Homo sapiens: one gene and its partner. The protein of the gene in region 2 purifies or fractionates together with the protein of the main gene of each other region. This does not show direct contact. Each region holds a gene or a part of one and is shown on either strand. Other genes may lie near its edges.

Region 1 (7,674 bases), on a different chromosome or scaffold from region 2:
AAAACATCTTCCTGAAGACTGAAGCTAAAGGTCGTGGAAAAAAATGGAACTGGGGAGCTAGGTAATTACAGAACTTTCTCAAGGAACCTAAGTAAGAACATCCTCTACCTCCAGAAAAGGAGCCCTCACAATGTCTGCCTACTAGGATTTCAGAATTGCTGTGCACCAGTAACTGCAGTGTGCCTCTTATTTTTCCCATTTCTGAATTGAGATGGTTAATTACGGTTATCTTCTCCCCATTCCACATTGCATGACAGATGGGACTGAGGGAGTACATAACTTTTTTTACATGTCTTAGTCCATGGTTCAAGAGGAAGAGAAAGCAAAATTCTGTCCTTTGGAGTCTGATACTGGGATTGGAGGTGTTTTCCTTCCAGAAAGAAGCAAATATTTGCAACCAAGAGTGTAGACTGGTAGACTGTAGGACTGACTCTAACTATTTGCTCTTCTGTAAGAGGATAGTACGTTTACCCTGCCATATGACTTCCTGTGACTGTGAGAATACACTTCTCAGTCCTACTGATGTAGAACTGGCCTTGTGACTTACTTTGGCCAGTGGAGCGTGAGTAGAAGTGATATCATGAAGTGTCATGTCTGAGTAGAAGTATTACGATCCACTGCATGGTTTGATCATTCTATTTTCCCTTTGCTGAGATGTGAATGGCACATCTCAGAAGGGAATTGCTCCTTCACCGGGTAACCTGAGCAAATCATTGTAAGCCCCTGAAATTATGTAGTTTGTTACTGTGGCATAATATATGTTAGTGAATGCTGGCCAATACAAATTTACAGTGTTATCTATTCAACTTACCTCAGAAACACTAAGGTCACAGAGAGAGACAGAATTAATACCAGGTAATTCAACTTTCAACTCAATTTTCAGAGGTTTCTCACTGTGATCATGCACAATTTTTAGTTCATAGGCTGGCATCTTCATCTCCACCTGGATTTCAGTACTGGAAATCTCTTCTATCAGACACACTGCTTTGCCTGAAACTTGGTCTTTTGGCAGTAACAGTTGAGGAAAGTGATCTGGATTGCTCATAGTACTGCTTCGTATCTGTCCAAGAGTTAGTTCTTTATGAAAAAAAGGGTGGAGGGGAGATAAAAAATAAATCTACAACATAAAATACTATGAGCTATAATATATGTGGTGTTAGTAGAGATGGTAGATAAAGCTGCAGTTAAATTAGTTTGGGAATCAAGCCAAAAGAATCTTAAACCAAAGAATTTGATTGAAAATTTTTCAGGATTTAAAAATCAAGGATATGATATTTCTAATATTTAATATTTGCATTTTTCTATCTTAAGTTTTTCACCTTTTAAAATAGAGATTTCTAGTTTGCAAAATGTATACAGGATCCAAAAACATCTTAAAGCAGTTTAATTTTCCATTTACAATCATCAACTTACCCCTTCTCATTTTTTCTCTTAAATCTATGGAATCAGTTTGGATTCCCATCAGATTTTGTTTCATTCTTTGAATGCTTCCTTTTATTCTAAATTTGGTAATATGGTAAGAGTGTGAGAGGGTGAACTGGAATTTCTCCTCAATGCATTTCATGGCCATCTGAATTAACTGATTTTTTTTCACTTGGTCCTTTTCTGCTGCATGAAGAACATCAGGATTGTAGGCAACATCAATGACTGTGTAAGCATCTGTGTGTGTAATTGAAAGGGTATGAAATGAAGAAAAATTGTTGCACTAATGATACTGTCAGGCAATATATTAAACCATATTCCTGATAAAGCTAGAGAATATTCCTGTATTTTTCAGAGGTAATCACAGTAGTGCTACAGCAATTATGACATTTCTTGGCACTTTTGCATGGATTAAAACAGCTCACCTTATTACAAAAGTTAAACAGTATTAAATTTGCATAAAGATACACTAATTGTAATTATATTATCAACAAATAAAGAGTTTTACTTGAAATGCTCTCAACCAAGTAAGATCTTGTCCATTCCTAATAAAATTTTTACAATGTGCTTTCTCTCAATTATTTGTACCTGATATCTCAGTTGTATCTTCTGGTTTGCCAACAGTTAGAGGTACTGGATGAGTGGTTGATTGGGGAGCTGGGATCCTTGTCCACTGACACAGGTTGATAAAAAGTATTTTTTCTTTTGGTTTCTGGAAAGCAAATAATTTTGCACATCTCAAAACCTAGTTTAAAACCATTTAAGGCCAGGCATGGTGGCTCCCGCCTGTAATCCGAGCACTTTGGGGGTCCAAGGCGGCCGGATCACCTGAGGTCAGGAATTTGAGACCAGCCTGGCCAACATGGTGAAACTCCGTTTCTACTAAAAATACAAAAATTAGCCAGGTGTGGTGGTGGATACCTGTAATCCCAGCTACTCGGGAGGCTGAGGCAGGAGAATCGCTTGAACCCAGGAGGCGGAGGTTGCAGTGAGCCAAGATTGTGCCATTGCACTCCTGCCCGGGTGACGAGAGTGAAACTCCATCTCAAAAAAAACAAAAACAAAAACATTTAAAAAATAATATCCTAAAAGCCACTCACCACAGGAATGAAAGAATTTTAGGCTCCAAGTAAGTCATTTCATGTATTAAAACTGCGTTTGATTATACTGTTGTTATTTGATTTCCCCAAGGCTGCTGGCTTTTAATTAGGAATCCAGACTGGGGTGGTGGCTCACGTATGTTACCCTAGTACTTTGAGAGGCTGAGGTAGGAGGGTTGCTTGAGGCCTAGGAGTTCGAGATTAGCCTGTGAAACATAGGGAGACCCTGTCTCTACAAAAATCATTTAAAAATTAGCCGGGTGTGGTGATGCCCACCTGTGATCCCAGCTACTTGGGAGGCTGAGGTGGGAGGATCGCTTGGGCTGCAATGAGCTGTGATTGTGAGCTGTGATTGTGCCACTGCACTCCAGCTTGAGCGACAGAGCCAGCAAGACCCTATCTCAAAAAAAAAAAAAAAAAAAAAAAAAAAAAGTCTGCCAGGCGCAGTGGCTCATGCCTGTAATCCCAGCACTTTGGGAGGCTGAGTCAGGTGGATCACCTGAAGTCAGGAGTTCAAGACCAGCCTGGCCAACATGGTGAAACCCCGCCTCTACTAATAATACAAAAATTAGCCGGGCATGGTAGTACACACCTGTAATCCCAGCTACTTGGGAGGCTGAGGCAGGAGAATCGCTTAAACCCGGGAGGCAGAGGTTGCAGCGAGCCAAGACCACACCATTGCACTCCAGCCTGGTGACAAAGTAAGACTCTGTCTCAAAAAACAAAACAAAACAAAACAAAACAAAAAAAAAACAAAAAAAATTAGCAATACCTAAGTGTAAAGTATTCTCTGGTTATTCTGGGATCATTTCATTCAAGACCTCCCCATCCCTGGCACCAACTCGACATACCAGAATCCTGGTCTGTAGACAAAGCTGTGGTTCTGGGGCAGCACAGAGCTGTTTCCCTTCTTTCAGCTGCTGCTGAATAAACTTCTCATAGCCCTCAGGGTCACTCTGAGCTAGATCATCTAGGAGGTTCCAAAACTGAGTAACTTGGGTAAGCAGACCTTTTGAGGATGTCTCCATGACTTATGAGTGGTGAATAATTTTCTTAAGCCTGTGGAAAAACACGACTTCAGGAAGAAAACTGTCTGTGTAATTATTGATTCATTTCTGCTTTGGGGAGGTGGAATGGGTCAGGAATTGTTTTGGTGAAGTTAGGACAGCATTTGTGTCTAAAAGGTTGTGGATCAGCACCACTTTATGTTTTCCTTATTCTTTAATTATCTAGTACCTCTTCCTAAATTCTCACATTGTCCTCTCAGATAAGGCCTTACTTCTATTTGGACCCTGACAAGTCAGAGTAATCATTTTAAGTCTGGGTTTCCTGATCTTCTTGTTCCAACACCTGACTGGTGGCTCCCCAGTTCTGAAATTGCCAGAGGTGTGGTGTGGGGTGAGGGCCACATAAGACTTCCTTAATCCTCAGTATAGTTTAGTATTTCAAAGCATGGACTTGTGAGCCAGAATGCCTAGATTCCGGTCTTAGTTCTATCTCTCACTAGCTCTGTGACCTTGAGCAATTAATGTTCTGTTCAAAATGAAGACGATAATACCTCTACCATAGGATTATTGCGAGATTAAGTAAGCTAATAGAGAGGCTGGGACACTTCTCTACGTCTTCAGATAAATCTCCTTAGCCTCTTCTCCCATTGGAGAGGTGTCCCACAGCATCTTTAGAATGAGGAAAAGAGGTTTAGATTCTTCAATTACTGTGTAAGGGTTATGCTAAACGGGAAACTTAACTAACGGATAATCATTCCATAGGTCTGCAAACCCACCTCTTCTCTCAGTTCTAACGGGTAATCATTCTATAGGTTGGCAAACCCACCTCTTCTCTCAGTTCCTTGACAAACCGCGACGCCTGTTACCAGGGTAACCAGCCTGGGTACAACATCTAATTGGGTCCGGGGAACTTCAGGGAGAAAAGTCTCTTCATATCTAGTTCCGGAATGTCCCCCTTCTGGTGCCAGGCTTGCTTTTCAGTTGGGCCTGACCCACTTCTCTTCCAGGAAAGCGCCCGCCTTCCTTCTGCACCCGTCAACCTCTGGAGTGTCCTGAAAACCCTCCCTTGTGGGAGTCTCTGGGCTGCCTGTTGGTGGGACGATTTCTCAGGAGCACGACTTCCGGCCTGAAAAGGAAGTCTCCTCCTTTTTCTCCCAAACCACTTCTTCCCCCCTACCCCCCGCCACGCGAGGCTGCGGCGCACGGTATGGGTGTGTTTGTGTGTATTTGTGTGGGGAGGGCGTTTGGAGGGAAGGTTACCGGGAGCTCCGAGGCCGCTGGGGAACAGGGATCCCGGTGACAAAGATGGGGATATTTCCTCTGTCTTCCACTTGGAAACCTCAACCCCCGCTTCAGGCTCCCTAGATACTTTCTGGGGCCCAACCGAAGGCCGTAGCCATCCAAAGCGTTCCCAGCCTTTCTGGGGAGTGAAACTTACCCCCGGGGTTCGTCCTAGAGGAGCGTGAGCGGGGAATGCCCAGGTCAACCGGGCTGTCCGAATTCCGCCCCGGCTCAGCCTCCGGCCTCAGTCCGGGAGAGAGATCTGCCTGTCGGTCTGGGCTGGGGGAAACGCGGCAGTGGCCTGGGCCACAGGTGAGGGCAGAGTAACCAGTGGGAAGGCTGCGTTTTCACGAAGGACTCGGGTGAAGCTGCAGAGCTGCCTTTGAGCCCTGACTCCTTGGCTTCCTGGGTCGGAGGAGATCTTGTAATGGAGTGGTTCTTCGTCTCACTAGCAAGATGCCTGATTTCCTCAGGATCAAGGGGTGAGTGAGCGTTGGGGTGGTTGCACAAAGCTCCTGCTAGCTACACACGAAAATATTCTTGTCATCTAGTTTTTGGAAGCTTCCGTAGCAAGTAGGAAATAAAATGCCCCCAAATGGAGAAATTTAGGACATCTTTGCATTTGATGTTTTGAGTAATCAGTTTCTGTTACTGTTGACACCCGTGGTTCCTGACACTCTCAAATCTACGTATTTGCTTCAGTGCAAACTATATTGGGATTGGAGGTTTGATTTTTAATTTAGACAGTGACATACATCATTTGCCTGGGACTATGTGGCTTGGGACGTTACAGCTTTAAGGGAACTTCATCTACAAAATAGGGATGGAGATACTTGCCTCATATAAAAAGTAGTTATGAGGATTAAATAAAATGGTGCTCATGAAAGCACTTAATTTTATGTAGTCTTGTGCATTTTCAAAGAACTTTAATGTACATTATCTCCTTTCATCTCACATTAGTGTGTTTAGGCATTTCCCTCTTTTAATGGTAAAGGGAAAACTATTCTTTAGAATCTCTGACTTCTAGTTCAGTGATCTTTCCTGTACCTCATATGCTTCTTTATAAAACTTCAAGAAAAGATAAAGTAATAACAGAAATTATTACTAAACGTTATTTGTTGATTCATTTCAGATTGAAGAATGTCCCGGATTCCACTGGGGAAGGTCCTCCTGAGGAATGTCATCCGGCACACAGATGCTCACAATAAGGTGGGAGGTACAACCTAGTTACTCCTCAACGCTTACTGAAGGCAAGCAGTGTGCCAAGCATTATTTTGGAACAACTGGGAGATACAAAGAATATTCTTGTCATCTAGTTTTTGGAAGCTTCCGTACACAGTAGGAAATAAAATGATGAATAAAATAGATAATTATAATACAGTTTGATAAGTACTGTATAACAGAGATATTTGCAAAGTGCTTTGGAGCACTAAGGAGGAAATAATAAAATCTACACTGGGGAATTAGAAAAGATTTTACAGAATTAGTGGTATTTCAGCTGCTGATCTTTGAACTGGTTCTTGAATAGGTATACGTTTACCAGGTATGAAATATCATTCTGGATAGACAGCATCATGCATTAATATGGCAACGAGAAAGAGCATTAATCACTTGGGGCATGGCAAGAAATTTATCCAGAAAGCAGGGAAGGTAGGGGATAGTGGCAGAAGATAAGGCCTCAGTGGTAATTAGAGTTGGATTGTGATGTTTGGAGCTGAGACTTCTTCCTCTAGGCAATAAAGAAGCCATCAAATGTTTTTAAACAGGGTGTGGCATGATCATAGTTATATTTTAGAAAGATGGTTTGTCAGCTGGGTAGGGAATGAATCAGATGGGGAGATACAGAAGGGAGAGTAATTAGGAGGCAATTGCAGTATTACAGGTGAGAGATGATGAGGGTTCGCATGAAATTAGTGACAGCAGGGATGAAGAAGAGGAATTTAGGAGATAGAATCCAAAGAAGTTGGTGGCTAATTAGATTATAATGATAAGAATGGAATCTAATTCAGTTGACCCTTGAACAATGCAGGGGCTAGGGGCATCAACCCCCTGCATAGTCGAAAATCCATGTATAACTTTTTACTCCCTCAAAATGTAAGTGCCAATAGCCTACTACTGACTGAAAGCCATAGCGATACCATAAACAGTGGATTAACACATATTTTTTATGTTACATGTATTATATACTGTATTCTTATAGTAAAGTAGCTAGAGAAAACAACATTTCATTAAGAAAATCACATTGAGTAGGCTGAGGAGGAAGAAGAGGGACTTGTTTTGCTATCTTACAGGTGGCAGAGGTGGAAGAAAATCTGAGGATAAGTGGACCTGCACAGTTGAGATTCCTGTTGTTCAAGGTCAACTGTGTAACCACCTATGTGACTGGGTAGATGATGACAATTCTGTTAATTGAGATAAAGAACAAAAAATGGGACAATTATGATAGGAAAGGTAATTAGTTTGGTTTTCAACATGTTGATGGTGAGGTGCTTATAGGATGTCCAAGCAGTTGAAAATTCAGACTTGGAGTAGAGGAGAAAAGTTGGGGCTGGACATAAAGGTTTCGGGATTATTGATGTATAGGTTGATGATAAGAGGTCATGAGAGTAGATGAGGTCACCTAGGAGAGCACATATAATGAAAAGAGGGCCAAGGCCCCTGGTTTAGTTTTCTTCAGTAAACTGTACTACTTTTGGTTTGATCATATTATTATTATCATATCACCTGATTTTTAAAATTATGGGCGAGGGTAAAACTGTTACCCGAGCTGCCTATGCAATTATGTTAACCTGCCCCTAGTTATATAGTAAGCTTAGATTTAAAATGGTAGCTAGAAAAAGATAAATCTAGCACAGATCTAATGA
Region 2 (7,024 bases):
GCAACAGTGTGAGGTCTCCCAATGAAGGGAGGTATTAGAAGAAAATCCAAGCAGTTTGATTTGGATTAATAGTTCTACCCCAAACACCTAAGAGAAATCGGAATTCCAGTACTGTCTCTTACAATATAGTCATCATCTATACACCTTTTTACCACGCCATATAAGCAAAATAAAGTCACAATGTGAAACTTTACTCCACTGGCTATTACCCTCTGGAACCAAAAGATGGAAAACTTCATTTGGGATATACAGTAATCTAAAGAAAAATTCAGCACTTATGAATGTAATAACTACTGTTACCATTTGAATGCCTCTTACAAACCAGGCACAGTATCAGATGCATATTCTGATTTTAGAAATAAACAGATTCAGAGGTTAAATAATCTGCCAAAAACAACAGGATTACTAAGTGGTGGAAGCCAGATCTGTTTAGGATCCAAAGCCTAAATAGGTTCTTTTCACTAAATTTAATACTATTTCCTTAGTTCTCCAAACTGATTTATTAACAGCCTATCCAAAACACTATAATAAAATGAACTGCTTTAAATTTGGAGGCAAGGTAGGGGTGGGATACTGAGTTTCAATAATCAGGTTTCTTCATTATTCTTTTACCTGAATGGGCTGGCCACCAGGCCACAATTGTATAAAAATCAGATTTTAAATGATGGAAAAGCTTTTCTGTGTGGCTACTGAAGGGAGAAAGGAAGACAACTGAGACATGCCCCACCTTGCTGGCTGGGGGCTGGTGACATCTGTGGGCCTCAGTGTTGGACTCCAGATGCAACAAAGCCTAAAGTTTTGAATATGTATGAAGGTCAATGTGATGTTTTCCAAAAACAGTCATAAAAGATGGCTGTGAAAAACCCCCTAGTATAACAACTGTATGTAACAAGAGCATATAGGTAGCTGCAGATGAATGCTCAGGTCCTTAGCTGTGGTGTTTAAAAATTCTTCAGACCAGGCTGGGTGCAGTGGCTCACACCTGCAATCCCAGCACTTTGGGAGGCCGAGATGGGTGGATTGCCTGAGCTCAGGTGTTAGAGACCAGCCTGGGAAACACAGTGAAACCCCATCTCTACTAAAATACAAAAAAAAAAAAAAGCCAGGCGTGGCAGCGTGCGCCTGTAGTCCCAGCTACTTGGGAGGCTGAGGCAGGAGAATTGCTTGAACCCGGGAGGTGGAGGTTGCAGTGAGCCAAGGTCGTGCCACTGCACTCCAGCCTGGCAACAGAGTGAGATGCTATCTCCCAAAAAAAAAAAAAAAAAAAAAAAAAAAAAAAATTTCTTCGGACCAGTGTGGTGGCTCATGAGTGTAATCTCAGCACTTTGGGAGGCTGAGTTAAGAGGACTGCTTGAGCCCAGGAGTTTGAGACCAGCCTGGGCAACATGGTGAGACCTTGTCTCTACAAAAAAAATTAACAACTACCCACAAAGAAAACCCTAGCTCAAGATGGCTTCACTGGAAGGAAAAATGAACTGGTCAGGAAGACAGACAAATAGAAGCAAATAATGAAAGCATTTTATTTGACATTGATAACCTTCTCACAATAAATTATGTGGCAAAATACATGCTTGAATACTTAATTGCTAGGCAATAGTCTATTTTCATTTTTTCACAAAAGGTAGACAACTCCAAAGCAGATGGCCATTTGTAGCCATTCTATATAATCATAAATACACAAAACACTGGCCGGGCGCGGTGGCTCACGCCTGTAACCCCAGCACTTTGGGAGGCTGAGGCGGGTGGATCACCTGAGGTCAGGAGTTTGAGGCCAGCGTGGCCAACATGGCGACACCCCGCCTCTACTAAAAATACAAAAATTAGCCCGGTGGGGTGGCATGCACCTGTAATCCCAGTTACTTAGGAGGCTGAGAGAGGAGAATCACTTGAACCCAGGAGGCAGAGATTGCGCCACTGCACTCCAGCTTGGGCGACAGAGCAAGACTCCATCTCAAAAAAAAAAAAAAAAAAAGTTTTAAAGTGCCGATAAATACAAGTTCCTGGTCTGCCTACAGTTTATCACTTAATAATACAAAGCAAACAAGAAAGCAAGTTAGTGGATTACCTGAGAGAGCAAGACATAGAGAAGATGTTAATGCAGGGAGCTGGCCTTCTCCAAACATATCCCTAACACACAATATTCAAGCAATTCCCAAACTGTGATCAGAGAACCACTGGGAGTAAGACCTCTGATCTATATTTACAAGTCTATAGGTGAGCAAAGGTAGACCTTTTCCTGAGTCTGAGATGGGAATATTACCTTCTCTATCTAGAAGCAAAAGAATCCTAGACTCACCAGGACTAGGTAATAGACACTGTACACGAGTAATTGAGGTAATCTACACTGGGCGTGACTTACATACTGATCCACCCCTAGGCAGCAATTCATACCTCACCCACCCAACAGGCTACATTAGAAACAAGGAAGTACAGGTCAAAAGTCTCATTAAAAAAATAAGAACTCTTGGCAGCAGAAAATGAAAATAAAGAATGAAGAATGACAGCACTGGCAATAAACACATTCTTTTCTCCGAAAGGGAAGGGAAAGAACTAATGTTGGGCACCCACATGCCAGACATTTTATCAATTTTCTCCTTTAATCCTCAATAATCCTGAGATAATACTAGCTAGTACTCTAGTTATTAATCCTCACAAAAATCCTGAGGTAGGTACTACTAATTCCCATGTTACAGGTGAAGAAACCAAAAGTTAGTAAGTTGCCCAAGGTAGTTGTTATCCGAACTGTAGAGACAAGAACTCCCAGACTTGAAGAGGTTAAGTAAACTTCCCCAAACTCAAAGTGGGAGTTCTTTCCCACTAACCTATTGCCTTCCCCTCCCTACCCGCAATCTCAATTAATTCTCTATTCTACCCCCTTCTCATTTCTGCAGCTGTTTCAAAAACTACACCTAAGATACAAAGCAAATAGGAGTTATTATAAGAAAACACCTCCAAAATCTACTAAGTTGTGGTATGATATGCCTGTTATCAGAAAACGTCACTCAATTTTGAGCTTGGAGGGCAGTGACAGTTTGGAGATCTTTAGCACAACGCCTGCCAGAAACGTGGCAGGCGCTCAGGATCTGCTGAATGAACAACATCTTCTGAGTGGTTATGAATTCAATAACCCAAAATGACCATCTCGTATTTCTGGATATGACATGATACCATTTTTTGGAAAATAATTTACCCATTCATTTTAAACAGGGTAGCTTTCTTAAAATTTATAGAACATTGATGAGATAGCTAAACTGAGAAATGCCCATTAAAGCATTAGTCATAACTTCAGGAAAATTTCAAATGTTCACTTTTCCAAGCAAATTAAAATGTTTCAGCTAATAAAAACCTGTCAGAAAAACCCACAAGACAAGAAAGTATAAAAAGAAAAGAGCAGCCAATATAAGGGCATTTAAGATGTCACACATAAAAAATTATAAAACATTAATCTAACTTGTACCTTGGTATTTAACCCTAAAACTGTCACCTCAGATAACACAATATTTTCTATGCAAGAAAACATTATCACCACGAATGTAAAGAAGCTTGCCGACCATAGCAACTGTTGCTACGTAGGGTTTTTTAATGTCTAAGACTGAAAGACAGAATTTGTAGAAACCAGTTAAAATGCCACTCTTAGCAGTATCTTGTGATACTGTGAATGCTTTCACCTTAAACTTTTTAAAAGACTCAATCTTTGACTTCTACATGTGAAAAAAAAAAAGTACATCTGGGAGCACTCAACGTAAGAAAACTACCAATTGTCTATAACCCAATGAAAATACATCCTTTGTTACAATGACAGCAGCTACTTTTCCTTAATAATCCTAGAGGAATTTCTTCATTTGAAAAGCTGGCTGGCCTAGATTTCTCTATAAACTAAATGACATGCTACTTTCGAAATTATCCATTTCAGAAGTTCAAAGAAATTCAGGTATAAGAACACATTAATACTCTCATGAAACAAACCTTATCCAGGTTACCCACGAATTGTGACAGATCAAAACCCAGTTTCTCATTTCAAATCAAGTATCACATTATTTATTACCTTAAAATACTAAGCCCTTACCTAATTCAATGGCAAATCATATTGGTTTTCAGTTTCTGAACTTGTACAAATCATACTGTAATATTTATGCAAAAGTTGTCATATAGTTGAATATTATAGACAGTTAACATCTTTTTTTTTTTTTTTTGAGACGGAGTCTTGCTCTGTCCCCCAGGCTGGAGTGCAGTGGCGTGATCTTGACTCACTGCAACCAACCTCCGTCTCCCAGGTTCAAGTGATTCTCAGCCTCCTGAGTAGCTGGGACCACAGGCACGCACCTCCACACTCAGCTAATTTTAGTAGAGATGGGGTTTTACCATGTTGGCCAGGCTGGTCTTGTCCTGACCTCAAGTCATCTGCCCACCTCGGCCTCTCAAAGAACTGGGATTACAGGTGTGAGCCACCATGCCCGGCCAACAGTAGAAAAGGGTACTCAGGGAACATAGTTCAAAAGTCATGATTCTCTATTGGCTGGACCAGGATTCTAGACTAGCTCTAGGGCTGAGATATCTTAGTAGACCAGTTAACATTCATGTGGCCCAATTTCCCTTACTCTAAACCCAAAGTCAAACATAACCTCTAAAGTCTTTCATACCCTGAAATGCTAATCTTGTAATCATCTTTCTATTCAGGTAATAACTCAAAAGAAATGGTCTCACTTCCTTCATCCTCTGACTAAAGTTTAGTTAGTCCATATTTTATGAATCCAATTAATAGGATACTTTAAAGAACAAAAAGAAAAGACTTTTCTTAAAAGCTAGAAACTCCATTCTGTAGTGATGATTCCCAGATCTGACTCTTAAACTCAACAACCTCAACAGACAATGACAGGGAGAAAAGATCTTACAAGTTTGAGCTGAGCTGGGGTGGGGTGGGAGGTGTGAGAGAACAGAGAGACAGTTACAAATTCACAAAAATGTATCACCCATTTCCATCTCCTCTAAAAAAATATGAAATAAGCCTTAAAAGGCTGTCATAGAAACCCATTATTAAGCCAATAAAAACTAATGAAGAAATTATGTCATTTATCCAAGATATGGAAGAACCACCTATTTACAGAAATCCTACCAATGTCCTAGACCTTCAGAAACTACATCTCACTAAGCTGACCATCAAGCCCCTTCAAACTGCATCTAAGGACAATAATAATATTCAAACATCAAGAAACAGGCACAGGTTCCACTCAACACCATTATTCCGTGGAGTCTTCCAGGACTAAATTGTTTTATAGAATCTTTGCTATCTTTGTTCTCTAGAAAATGATATCCCAAAGACTCTAAAATAAAACCAGCAAAACCCCTGTATTTGTTTTCCATTGTGTCATAACAAATTATCACAAACAAAACAACACAAATGGATTATCTTACAGAAGTCAGTGGGCTTGACTGGGTCTCACAAGGGCTAAATGAGGGTATCCAGTGGGTGGGTTCCCTGCTGGAAACTCTGGGGAAAATTTGCTTCCACATTCATTCAAGCTATTGGCTGAATTTAGTTCCTTGCAGCTGTAGGACTGAGTTCCCACTTCCTTGCTGGTTGTCAGCTGGGACTGGCCTTTCCTACTAGAGGCTGCCTGCATTCCCCGTCTCACACTTTCAATCTGGTCCCCTCCAGTAACGGCAGGCTGAGTCCTTCTCATGCTTCAAATTTGACTTCCCCTTCTGCCTCATCTCTGACACCAGCCAGAAAAAGTTCTCTGCTTTTAAGTGCTTATGTGAGTAGAATAAACCCACCCAGAAAATCCAAGATAATCTACCTAAGATCCTTAACTTTAATTAAATCTACTTAACATATTCATGTTCCAGGGTTTATAGTATGGAAATCGTAGGGGAGCCATTCTGCTTACCGCAGTCTGCCTTCTGGTTTCCAAGGATTCATCTCTCTCTCAAATGCAAAATACATCCATCCCATCCCAAGGTCCCAAAGGTTTCCCATCTAAAGCTTATCATTTCAGAAGTCCCAAATCTCATTCATCTATTCAGGTGTGGATGAGGTTCTGGGGACAAAACAGTAAGTCCAATTCCTGGGGCACAATTCCTAAAGAAACAAGTTCTCTACTCCCAACATACCACTGTGAGACATGTAGAGAATAACAGTTAGACATTCCAGTTCAAATGGGCAAAATGTAAAAGAAAACAGAGCCTCCGGTCCAAAGCAGTTTCAAAATCTAGGGAATCTCCATTCCATTTCAAAGCCTGGGAAAAATCCTCTCCAGCTTTTAGCTCCACCCCTCTGGGCTCTCCTATCTCCGTCTGAGTCACCCTGATTCTTTTATGAAAAGCAACACATTCACATGTGAGTAGTTTTATCAGCCTGCTTCCTATCAGTAGAATTTGGGGGGTCCAACAGCCCTATTACTTTCTGTCTCTTTCAATCCAAACTAGAACTGTTTATGTTGGCATAAAATTCTCAAGAACCTAATGGGCTGTGGAAGTATTCCACATGGGTCCACTCCATTAAAGTTCACATTCACAAATAAACCAGGCTGCACATTTAATACTTTGCTTGGAAATCTCAGCTAAATATACAAGTTCATCACTTGCAAATTTGGCTTTCCATATAACCATAGGATACAATTCTGCTAAACTTAGTTGCTACTATGTAACAAGGATCCCCTTTCTGCCAGTTTCCAATAAGAAAGACCTCACTTCTGTCTGGGCCCTCACTAGCAGAGTCATTAACATCCATATTGCTACTAAAAGTATGTCCTAGGCCTTTTCTTTTTTGACAGGGTCTCACTCTGCCACCCAGGCTGGAGTGCAGTGGTGCCATTACCGCTCACTGCAGCCTTGACTTCCTGGGCTCAAGCGATCCTCCTGTGTTCCAGGCCTTTTCTATCATGCCCCTCAAAACAATTCTAACCTTTATCTACTGCCACTTTCATTTTTAGGTAATAGTACCCCACTCCTGGTACCAAAATCTATACTAGTGTTCTACTGCTGCCATAACAAATTACCACAAATGTAGTAGCTAAAAATAACA

Evidence for each region. The genes of interacting proteins can lie anywhere in the genome.
Region 1: the proteins of CSNK2A1 (region 2) and NKAPD1 purify together in Homo sapiens (affinity purification with mass spectrometry; 5 studies listed by BioGRID and IntAct, with this or other methods). This does not show direct contact.

The regions. Positions count from the first base shown.
Region 1 is NC_000011.10:112,069,625-112,077,298, forward strand, and holds the start of NKAPD1 (uncharacterized protein NKAPD1), read left to right. Parts: upstream 1-4,674; 5' UTR 4,675-5,292; intron 5,293-5,942; 5' UTR 5,943-5,950; coding exon 5,951-6,019; exon of another isoform or gene 6,020-6,060; intron 6,061-7,674. Other genes in the region: PIH1D2 (PIH1 domain-containing protein 2), read right to left, coding at 812-1,077, 1,414-1,659, 2,011-2,134, 3,374-3,550.
Region 2 is NC_000020.11:533,787-540,810, forward strand, and holds part of CSNK2A1 (casein kinase II subunit alpha), read right to left. Parts: intron 1-7,024. UniProt on the Homo sapiens protein: Catalytic subunit of a constitutively active serine/threonine-protein kinase complex that phosphorylates a large number of substrates containing acidic residues C-terminal to the phosphorylated serine or threonine.